Regions from separate parts of the Homo sapiens genome. Here region 1 is linked to region 2. Evidence: fine-mapped expression QTL. A gene starts in region 2. The other region holds a variant in brackets. All regions are shown on one strand. Distances are from middle to middle. Region 1 overlaps CCDC69 (coiled-coil domain containing 69). Region 2 holds the start of CCDC69 (coiled-coil domain containing 69).

What was found.
Region 1: its variant is fine-mapped to the expression of CCDC69 in whole blood (INTERVAL, PIP above 0.99).

The regions. Positions count from the first base shown.
Region 1 is chr5:151,180,693-151,186,063 of GRCh38, forward strand. CCDC69 (coiled-coil domain containing 69) reads right to left here. Exons shown (of 9, transcript NM_015621.3): 6 at 5,331-5,371; 7 at 4,730-4,849; 8 at 3,652-3,749; 9 at 360-2,922. The coding sequence ends at 2,745. Among named protein-coding and RNA genes, the nearest start is that of ANXA6, 26 kb to the left of the region's middle. The variant G/T (reference allele first, on the strand shown) is at 3,049.
Region 2 is chr5:151,221,017-151,226,387 of GRCh38, forward strand. It overlaps CCDC69 (coiled-coil domain containing 69), which reads right to left and starts at 3,076. Exons shown (of 9, transcript NM_015621.3): 1 at 2,907-3,076. The coding sequence starts at 2,954. It overlaps LOC105378230 (a long non-coding RNA gene), which reads left to right. Exons shown (of 4, transcript NR_160730.1): 4 at 2,460-3,334. RefSeq lists enhancers at 859-1,078, 2,499-2,608, 2,629-2,828 and silencers at 2,949-3,028, 4,512-4,806.

The DNA.
Region 1 (5,371 bases), 40 kb before region 2:
TGTTTCTGATGCCAAAGAGGGGTCCTGCAGTGCAGAAGGTGACTTCTCATTCATCCTCGCAGTCTCTCCCACCCCATCCCTCTGTTTTCACCACTTACTTCAACCTCAGCCTCACTCCAAGCCTTGGTCTATTTTGAAGGCCATCCTTTAATCCAGGCTTCACCCTAGCCCCAGGCCCCACATCCACAATTAGGGCAAAGCAAGGGCCAGTGGGGCTTTGGTGCTTGAGGAGAGTGCCCAGAACCACGAGTGGGCTACCCAGGCCCCAGATTTACTCTTCAGAGATCCCCACCATTGGCAGAAGTCCTTGTGAAGACCCACCTCCCCACCCTCCCAGAAAAACACAAAAGTCACATAAATAAGGTGCCGCATGTTCTTTTTAGTTTCCATACATCGTCTGTCCCAGAGTGAGGAGAAGTTGATCTCCTTCCCACATCCACCACAGGCTGCGTGAGGGAAGCCTGGCTCCCCACAACTTGCTCCTTCTCCAGCCCTGCCCCTCTCAATTAAAACAATGCTTTCTTTTTTCTTTTCTTTTTTTTGAGACGGAGTCTTGCTCTGTCACCCGGGCTGGAGTGCAGTGGCGCGATCTTGGCTCACTGCAAGCTCCGCCTCCTGGGTTCACACCATTCTCCAGCCTCAGCCTCCCAAGCTGCTGGGACTACAGGCGCCCACCACCACGCCAAGCTAATTTTTTGTATTTTTTTAGTAGAGACAGGGTTTCACTGTGTTAGCCAGGATGGTCTCAATCTCCCAACCTTGTGATCCACCCACCTCGGCCTCCCAAAGTGCTGGGATTACAGGCGTGAGCCACTGTGCCTGGACTAAAACAATGCTTTCTAAAGCGCATTCTGCAGCCTGATGTGCCTGTGAGGTGAGAGGTGTGGGAGGGACAGAAGCTTTGTTCAAAGAGGTTTGGGAGAGGCTGGATACTTAGCTCCCTTCTTGTAAGTTTGCCACACACATTGGCATATTAAAGGTTCTGAGAAGTCATTCAGGTCACTGATCTGTTTAGGTGTCCCCAAATAACTTGGCCACCAATCATGTCTACTCCTGGACATTAGTTCAATAAACTAGTGTATCGCAGATGTGCTTTGCAAAAAGCTTCATGAAAAAGTACACATGTGATTCCCTCCAGGGCTTTCCTCGAGGCTCCTGGGTGACCTGTCTGACCATGGCTGGAGAATCAGCACAGCACTCCCCTAGCCTCACCTCTTCCCCCATTTGGCTGTGGAAATGGAGAAACACAGTCACCTCTGAACTTCTAAACCTAGAAACAGAAGGAGACTGTACACAGGGGAATACAGAAGGCAGTCTGGGATGATGTCACTATAGAATGACTGATGAAAAATGCAGATTGACTGTTCTGACGCTGGCTTAGGGCCTGGGGCTGAAGCTGGGGACCTTGAGCAAGGCCCTTTGACTCCTGTGATCTGTTTGCCATGTTGCCAATGAGGAATAGGAACCTGCTTCAAGGATCTTATGAGGACCAGGGGAGGGAGGGGTATGGAAAGCCTTTGATGCAAATGCTCTATGCAGAACAGGAGTTATAATTATAGTCTCCATTAGACATGAAGCTTCCTGAGAAGGATCCGAAATCCACAGACTATCAGGACTGGACGGCCTGCTGAGGTTAGTTACTCTAGCCACCCCTTTTCACTGATGGGGAAGCTGAGCACCAGGTTGTAAAAGCCTGGGCCTGGGATCAGGGGCAGTGGGAGGAGGAGTTAAGGCAGGGAGCAGGAATGAAAAAGAAACTAAGTGGGTGAGGGCCAGGGAGAGGAAGATTAAGTCACAGATCTGATTTTCCAGAGCCTGAAGAGAAAAACAGAGCAAAGGATAAGACCCGGATGACAGATGAGATCTAGATTCGACTCTGGGAACTGCTCCATGCCTTGGTTTCCTCATCTGTGCAGGGATGAGGTTCCAGCTCTGATAGATGAATGGACTCACAACCACCAAGCTTGCCCCTGTGCCCAGGTGGCACCAAGACTGAAGGGCCAGGAGGGCTGAGGGGATGCACCTTGCCTGGTAAAGGAAGAGGAGCTCTGGCTACTGTCCCTTGGTGGACACGACTCTGGCCCAGGAATGATGCCTCAGCTGGGGAGGCTGCCTGGCCCTGTCAGCCCCAAGGGCCTTCAGAGACCCCCTCTCTACCACTCACCTTCCCCACTCTGATTTGCGGGGTTTGTCCACACTCCCCCCAACCCCTACTCTGGCCTTCAGACAATCCTAGAATGGGACACTGCAGTGACATAAGAGTCCTTTGACCAGTCCCCCCACCATTTTAATGCAGGGGTAAACTGAGGCTCTGAGCAGGCCAGGGTGGAGTGGAAACACCTAGAGGAAGTTGATAAGTCAGCAAGTCGGCAGCAGAGCTGACAAGCTGGGACCAGGGGCTGTCTCCTTTATGTCAAATGGCCAGCGTGACACAGACTGCCCCTGGGAAAGCCTCGGAACTTCTCGGATTGGGACAGAGTGCTGGGGCAGGGAGGAAATGTCTCCTCTTGCTTATTCCCTTGGCCAACTCAAGGGAAGACGCTTCTCGGGGCCTCCAAAACCCTGTGGGTGATTCCATGTAACTCAAGGCCCCAGGGCTCACTGGGCACACACCCAGGATCTCCATCTCGCTCCCACCCTCGTTCCTTCCTGGAAAAGAACTGAGAGGCTCCTGCTGTCTTCTCCAGAAAAACCTTGGAAGGAGCTGTGACTTCAGGCGTCGTGGTGGGCCCAGGCCCTGCACCCTATGTGGCGAGGAAAGAGACCTCAGTGGGAGTGACAGGGGCCAGAGGGAAGGCAGGCGAGGCATTGGCCCCAAGGACCCGGTACAACAGCTCCTCCTTCTCCTGCTGGAGCTGTCGCCGCAGCTGCACCTCCTTCTCCAGGGCCTCACGCGTGAGAAGCAGGTCTTCTGACAGCTGCCTGTGGATGCACACAGAGCCCAGGGTTGCCTACTGGGAGCAGCTGCCACAGAGACCAACCCATTCCCCCAGGAAGCCTTCCTTAGATGGACCAGCAGCCTGCTGCAGGGTCCCCACTGCCCTCCTT[G/T]TTGGCCTGTATACAAGAGGCAATTCAATCTGTTGACCAAGGAGCGGGGGCCTCACAGACAGGCAGGCAGTTCTGAGCTGCTTCAAATCTCTGCTCTACCACTTAGCTATATAATCTTGAATAAGTTATTCATTCTTCTTAAATTTCAGTCTTCTCATTTGTAAAATGGGAAGAAGAAGAATAGGACCCAGCTCTTAGAGTAATTATGAGGATTAGATGAGAAAATATGTACAGTATTCAATAAATTATGTCTGACACATGATACTAGCTCTTATTTACTAAGCCCTAAGAACTGATTCATTCCACTTAGGCCTGGTGCACTATAAATTTCCTGTTTCCTCCTCCCTATATTGGGCTTTCCCACAGAGTACACTCAGCCAGGACAGAGACAAACAGATACTAATCAAGGCATTGGGACTTTGGTTTCTGAGCAGAACTGCCCCCTTGGGTTTCTTGACTCCCAGGGAAAGAGGAGCCACATTCCCTAAATAGGCCCTGGGCCCACCTGTCAGTCCATTCCTCAGGCCCCTCTAAGACTCTCCCAGCTGGGAATTTTGGCAAAAAGGGTGGGGATGGGAGTAAAGGAGGCAGGAAGACAGCTACCTTGACAGGACCACCTGGTTGCGGCTTCGGACATGGAGGTCCTCATTTTCCTGTTGCAGGGTCGTAATTTTTTCCTCCAATATCAGATTTTTCTCTTTCTATAACAATGAGAATGAGCTCAGAAAGCTGCCAAACTCACGCTGCACGATGTGTGCTGTCACCTCCCTCTTATCTGTGGTCACTGAAAGCACTGATTCATTCTAGACTAGATGTTACATTTCATGGAGCAATAAGGTAACTTAGAAAAAAGTAAAACTAAAAAGTTAACAAAGGGCTGCGGCTTTTTGCCACAGGAGAATGGTAAAAAAAAATTACAGGCCCTACCATCTCATTTCACCATGAGTTCATGGAAGAAAGAATATGTTTTGTTCTCCAAAAGTCAGAAGGATATGATCTATATAAATAAAATTAAGTTTGTCTGTTATGTGTTTCCACAAAAATGAGCGAACAAAATCTATACGGAATGTTTGAGATGATCTGATTAAAATAAAGCCCTGTGGGTGATTCCATGTCACGTGACTCAAGCCCCCAGGGCTCCCTGGGCACACACCCTGGCTCCCCATCTCCCTCCTACCCTCTTTCCTTCCTGAGAAAAGAACGGATGGTGACATGAGATGGTAGTGCCTGTAAGACTTTTTTTTTAAACATTCTCATGTGGCAAAATTAAAAGTCAGCAGCTTTTTGTTAACTCCTTAGTTTTATTTTTTTAATTATAAGTTGTAAGGCACACAGGAGGCCAGGGAGACTTCTACAGCAACATAATCTCTGCTTAGATTCAACCCTAGGGTTTCTGAGGCTTCTGTCCTCCCGTGTTCTCAATGCTACCTGCCCTAGTGTCACCCAAGCTACAGCAACATCAGTAGCCTCAAAAGGCACAGGACTCAGATGATAAGGAGCCACTGCTTGACCCAGCCTGGCCACAGACCATGCTCAGTGGTCAGCACAGGTGGCAGGTCAAAGCTGGAGTGAACTAGGCTGGGACCTCCTCAAACCACCTCCCCTCTGCATGCTTTACAAAGGAAACACCCAGAAAGCGGGAGCCTGAGGCTGCATCCCCCAGCCACTCCCAGTCACAGACCACTGTTTCCATGAGGATCAGCCGCCTGTCCAGCTCATGAATACGCTCATTCTTCATCTCGATGACAAAGTGTAAGCTCTCCAGCTCCTGCTCCCAGAACTGGCTGGGGCTCCCATAATCCTAGACAGGGACAGAGTGACCTCATTAGGCCAGTAGGCTACCTCCCTCCTCCCCATTCTGCCAGCAACTCATTGTTGGACTTTCACAAGTCACCCACCTTCCTCTCTCAGCCCATGTTAAGTGTTTAATATGCTTTATCTCCCTGTATCCGAATATCACCTTTTGAGACATGTGCTAGCACCACAGATGAGGAGACTGTGGTTCGGACAGGTTGAGTCACTTGTGCTAAGTGGCAGGTTTGCTATGTGCACCTAGTTCTCTCTGAATCCAGAACGTGAGCACTTTACTATTCCAGATGCTGCTCTCTGGGCCTTAATTTTCCCATCGGTGAAATGGGAACTCTTTTATTTCCAGGCCCTTGTGTAGGTAAGAGTGCCAGGTCTGAGTCTTGTCCTTGAAGAGGGGCTGGTCTTTCCTGTTGCCCGGCCCTGACCTCCCTGGAGATTCAAGGAGGAAAAGCGCCCAGGGTGCTGCCACCTACCTGGATATGTTTCTTATAGTTTCGGCTCAGAATGGACTCCT
Region 2 (5,371 bases):
GGTTCCTCAGCACCCACCCCCAGCCTGCCAGGAACCCTATTCATTTATTCCCAGCATTTCAACTTGTCCCAATAAGGCAGTGACCTAGTCCCAGGCCAGGCCTCTCAGGGTGGTCTAGAACATCTAGTCGGCCAAGCCCAACAGGCACCATAGACCACAGAACTCAGCAGACCCCCAGATCCTTGAACCTGGAGGGACATGAGAAGGCCTCATGGTCAAGCTCCTGTCCCTAGCCAGGATAATCCTTTCTAAAAGTGCCTGCCTCATTCCTTGCTGCCTGCCACCTCCATTCTCCACAAAGAACCCCCTCACGCTGTGCTTTCAGTGGCTCAGCCTTTGCTTAGGCCTTGGCCATGAGTGGGTAACTCCTGCCATACCTTCCAAACCACCCTTCCTCAAAAACCCTTCCTGCATCTCTCAAGGCTAGATGTGATGCTCCTACTGCTCCCTGGGCCAACCCCTAGCATGGCTCTTATTTGTCCCTCATTCACTCAAATATCTACTTAAGCACCTGCTCCATGATCTGTATAAGGCAATGAGCACCAGATGGGGAGTGCAGAAAGCCAGGCTCAACTGCACAGCTTTGCCACCAACTGGCTGTGTGACTTTGGACCCATCGTTCCTCACTGAGCCTCAGTTTCCCCGGTAAAGTGGGAAAGATTCTGCAGCTCAGCCTAACTTCCAGGGCTTCTGTGAGACTGGGCGGGATGTGAAAGCATGCTGTAAACACTCAGGGTGAGTCATGGTTATCAGAACCTAACCCCTCTGTAGCCTGAGCTCATTTTTGTCCATCCCATCCCTGGAGTCCCCCTCTCTCCCAGGGGGCTGGTAGCCTGTTGGGGATGAACTTGGGAGCTCATGCCTTCCAAGGGGTTGGCACCTGGGTGAGAAATTGGGCAGGAGCACAGCCTACAGGGATGAGAACTTTAAACAAAAACAGCCCATAAATCTTGCCATATAGGGGCAGGGGCCTGGCATGGCTGGGGCCAAGAAGGCATGCCAGGCTGTTCTCTGAGGCAACAGGAGTAAAAGATTTTACGCTAAAGTCATCAAGAAGCCACTGGAAGCACAGCGGGAGGAGGTGGAGACAAAGAACACGGAGCTAGGGGACTAGATACCTGGGTTCTGCTCTGTGTTGCTCTGTGACCTCAGTCATGCTCCTTCCCTTTTCTAGGCCTTAACCTCCTATCTGTATAGTGGGTGCGTCAGCCCAGGTAGTACCCAAAGGCCCTTTCCAACTCAGACAGGCTGTGCCAGCTTTACTTGCCCTTCAGAGCTTTGGCTGTGCCAGGGACAGGCAGGAACAGCTGGTAAGTCTCTCAGAAGGAGCAGGAGCCAAAGAACCTGTGCTTACTGTGACCTCCTCTTCCAGCTTGTGGAAGGGTCAGGCTCTTCCCCGTTTCCTCCACCTCTAGGTAGATGGAATTCACCCTTGGTCCACTTTGCAAGCTACAAGGTTGACACAGGTGCAGAGAACACAGACTCTCAGATGCTTAGGGATCATCCTGCTCATCACTCCCCATACAGGGAGAAACTGAGACCCAGGGAGACACAAGGGCTTGCTTGGGGTCACCCAGTATGTTTATGGCACCACCAGGACTTACACCCAGGGCTAATGTCTGCCTACCACTTGCTCAGTTACAAGTCTCAGCCAAGGCTCAGGTCTCTCCGCCTTGTCATCCCTGTCAGCCAGCCCCTTCCTTCTACTGATAGAGCCAAGCCTCAGTTTCCCTGTTGGAGTGAGTAAAGACATGAGGGTTTCTAGGTCAGGAGTTGGTGAGAATTTCAATCTGGTAATAAAGGGAGAGCAAGGAAAGCCAGGAGGTGTCAGAGAAGGGAGTAGAATCCTCCAGGCTAGGACTACTGTTAGGCAGAAAAACCTGTACTCAGGGCACAAGCAAAGCAGGAGCAGAGGGAGGACTAAAGTTCATTGCAAAACTATTAAACACTGTCACAGTTTGGGGCCTCTCAAGGTCTCAAGGGGGAATGATGATAAAGTTTAAGGGATCACCTAGTCCCACCTGGCTAGGGGGCAGGTAGTGGTAAGAAAAGGGGCCAGAATTTGAGGGTCCTTCTTCCCCTCTGCCTCACAGTGTCCCCTGAGGAGGCTATCTTTCTAGCTCCAGGCTCTGACCTTCTGGGCTCGTCAGACCCCAAGGGGCAGCTGGTCTCACTGCAAGAAACCTGAGAATTGTCCCCTGGGCCCTGACCCAGCTCCAAGGCCCCTTGGGGGAAGGACAGGAAGGGAGGAGAGGGCCACAGAACGCAGTAGATCTCCTCCCTCTTTGGCCCCTCCCAGCTACCCCAAGGGCAGCCCACACTCACCAGCTCTGGGGCCTGCAAGAGCCCTAAGACCAGCGCCTCAAACTTTAAAGCGTCATCACCTGGGCATATTGTTAAAAGGCAGCTTCTGTCTTGGCAAGACTGGGCCTGAGCCTGAGATTCTGCATTTCTGACAGGTCCCCAGGGATGCTGATACTGCGAGTCTGTGGAACACTCTTCGAGCAGCCCTGAGATTATCAGCCTTTAACCCCCGGGGGGAGGAAGCCGAAGGCCCAGAGAGGTCAAGTCACTTGTCCATGGCCACACAGCGAACAGCCCCAGACCGAAAGCAGAGGGCACCTGCCACAGACACACGACATCTCCCCACCCGAGGCAGCGGGAATCAGCTGCCTTTCCCTGGCCCGGGTGCCGTGTTTGTAAACTCGGCTGCTTGGTGCGGCTCGGGCCGGGGTAAAGGGCGCCTCCCAGCAGAGCCTCCCTCGTCTCTGAGCTGGCCTCTCCAGGTTCTCCGTCCGGTATCCCGGGCCGACCAGAGAGAGCCCGGGGCGCCGAGTCCTCTGCGGCGGAGCGATTCCGCACTCCCCTCTCCTCTGAAAGCAAACTTCTCCGCCGGCGCCCTTTACCTTTTTCGGGGGTTTGCAGCTGCTCAGCCTGCTGTGTCTGCAGCCCATCCTCCTCCGGGGGCTCCCGGACGCCGCTTCCCAACTCCGGGGCCCCCAGAGGAGCCTGCGATCCGGGCCCCGCTGCCCGCTCCGCGCCCGCCGGCTGGGGCTGCCGGCGAGACCCTGAAACTGAACCTGGAAGCGCTGTCTTGAGCCTGAGCTGGGGCGGCCGCCCGCCGTAAATACCCGAAGAGCGGGGCCTCAGTGTAGCCCGCAGGGCCAGCGGCGCCGCCACCAGAGGCAGGTGACCAGAATCCTTCTAAATAATAGGAAGCTCTGGTCAGGGCAGAAGAAAAGAAAACCTCAAGGAGCAACAGATGCTTTTCCGAACCCTCAGCTAAGAAAGGGCCGGGGGAAAAAATAATTAAAGCAATTATTTGATAAACTAACAACTATCATTCATTGAGGGCTGTTTTTGTCCCAGTTGTTTTATACATTTTATTTCTATTTCTTGCCATATCAGTGCAACAAAGGTATTACTTCCTCCATTTTACAGGTGAGGAAAATGGTGTTCAGAGATGCAACATGATTTGCCTAAGGTCACATGGCTAGTAAGTTACCACAGCCCAGATAGAATCCAGTTCCTTTTTTTTTTTTTTTTTTGCCGCTATCATAGTTCACTGCAGCCTCAAACTCCTGGGCTCAAGCGAGCCTCCCAGCTCAGCCTCCTGAGTAGCTGGGACTACAGAGGCTCACCACCATACCCAACCAAATTCTTTTCTTTTTTCCAGTCTGATTTTGAACGACCGCCCTCAAGCGATCCTCCCACCCTGGCCTCCCAAAGCGTTGGGATTACAGGCATGAGCCACTGCACAGAATACAGTTCTAACTCCAGAACCTAAACTTTGACTCAATGGCCTACAAATAAATCATAATACTAAGTTTATTGTATTTATTTATTTTTGAGACAGAGTCTCGCTCTATTGCCCAGGCTAGAGTGCAGTGGCACGATCTTGGCTCACTGCAACCTCTGCCTCCCAGGTTCAAGTGATTCTCCTGCCTCAGCCTCCCCAGTAGCTGGGATTACAGGCATGCACCACGACACCCAACTAATTTTTGTATTTTTAGTAGAGACAGAGTTTCACCATTTTGACCAGGCTGATCTCAAACTCCCAACCTCAGGTAATCCGCCCGCTTCGGCCTCCCAAAGTCCTGGGATCCCACACCTGGCCAATAATACTAAGTTTAATTTTAATGCCTCCTCACTTCTGGGCTGATAGTTTTTTCCACCTCACAAGCATCTGTAATATTTGACTCTATCCATCTTGGATAGATGTTATTCATCACAACAACCTCTTGAGGCAGGCCAGGTATGGTGACTATGGGACATAAAATGTCAGTGTCTAGGAAAAGGAGCTTTTGTTTATCTTCTCTTTGTTATTAGCTGAGGTTTCTGAAATGGCAATGCAGGAAAAAGATAACCAATTTTGAAAATCAGTGTGTATGCCTATTTGCGTGTATATTGGAATATTAAAGTCAGGCCCAAAACTCTTGGAAAGGTGTGCTGTGAAAACGGCTTAGAGTCATGAATGGGGAAAGAATATGAGACCTCAAAAAAATTGCTCCCTCCATAGGGTACAAAACCAATTGCAAAAGTGTGTAAGAAAGGAAACTAAGGAAACGTGTTATTAGGTTCTCAAAAGCAAGTATAATAGAGAATGGTGGCTCACAAAGTGTGATTCCCAAATCAGCAGTGTCAGCACTACCAGCCGCCTTTGTTGGAAATGCAAATTCTCGGGCCCCACCCCTGGCCTAAACTCTGGGGATGGGGCTTAGGAATCTATGGCTTCATAAGCACTCCACTCATGTCTGGCCTGGGCTAAAGTTTGAGAACCCCTGCCATAGGACGTGCTCCACAGGTACTGAAGAAACAGGATATACTTAAATTATACTAAAATTAACAATGTTTATTGGAACAGTGCTCATGATTAAAAACAAAGAACCCAAAACAACCTAAACAGCCAAGAAAAGAAGGTTGGTTAAATACATTATGCTATATCCATAAAAATAGAATGCCACATAACCAGCAAAAATACTGATGAAGATGAATTTTTTGTGTTACAAAACATAACAAACTCATTTTCATTAAAAAAAAAAATTGAGTGACTACCACTGTATTGGTGAGATTTTGAAATTTTAAAACAGTTTTTTTTTTTTTGAGACAGGATCTTGCAATATCACCCAGGCTGGAGGGCGGTGGAGTGATCATGGCTCACTGCAGCCTCAGTCTTCCAGGCTTAAGTGATCCTCCCACCTGAGCCTCCCGAGTAGCTGAGACCACAAGTGCCTGCCACCAAGCCTAGCTAATTTAAAAAAAAAAAATTTTGTAGGCCAGGCACAGTGGCTCATGCCTGTAATCCCAGCACCTTGGGAGGCTGAGGTGGATGGATCACCTGAGGTCAGGAGTTCGAGACCAGCCTGACCAA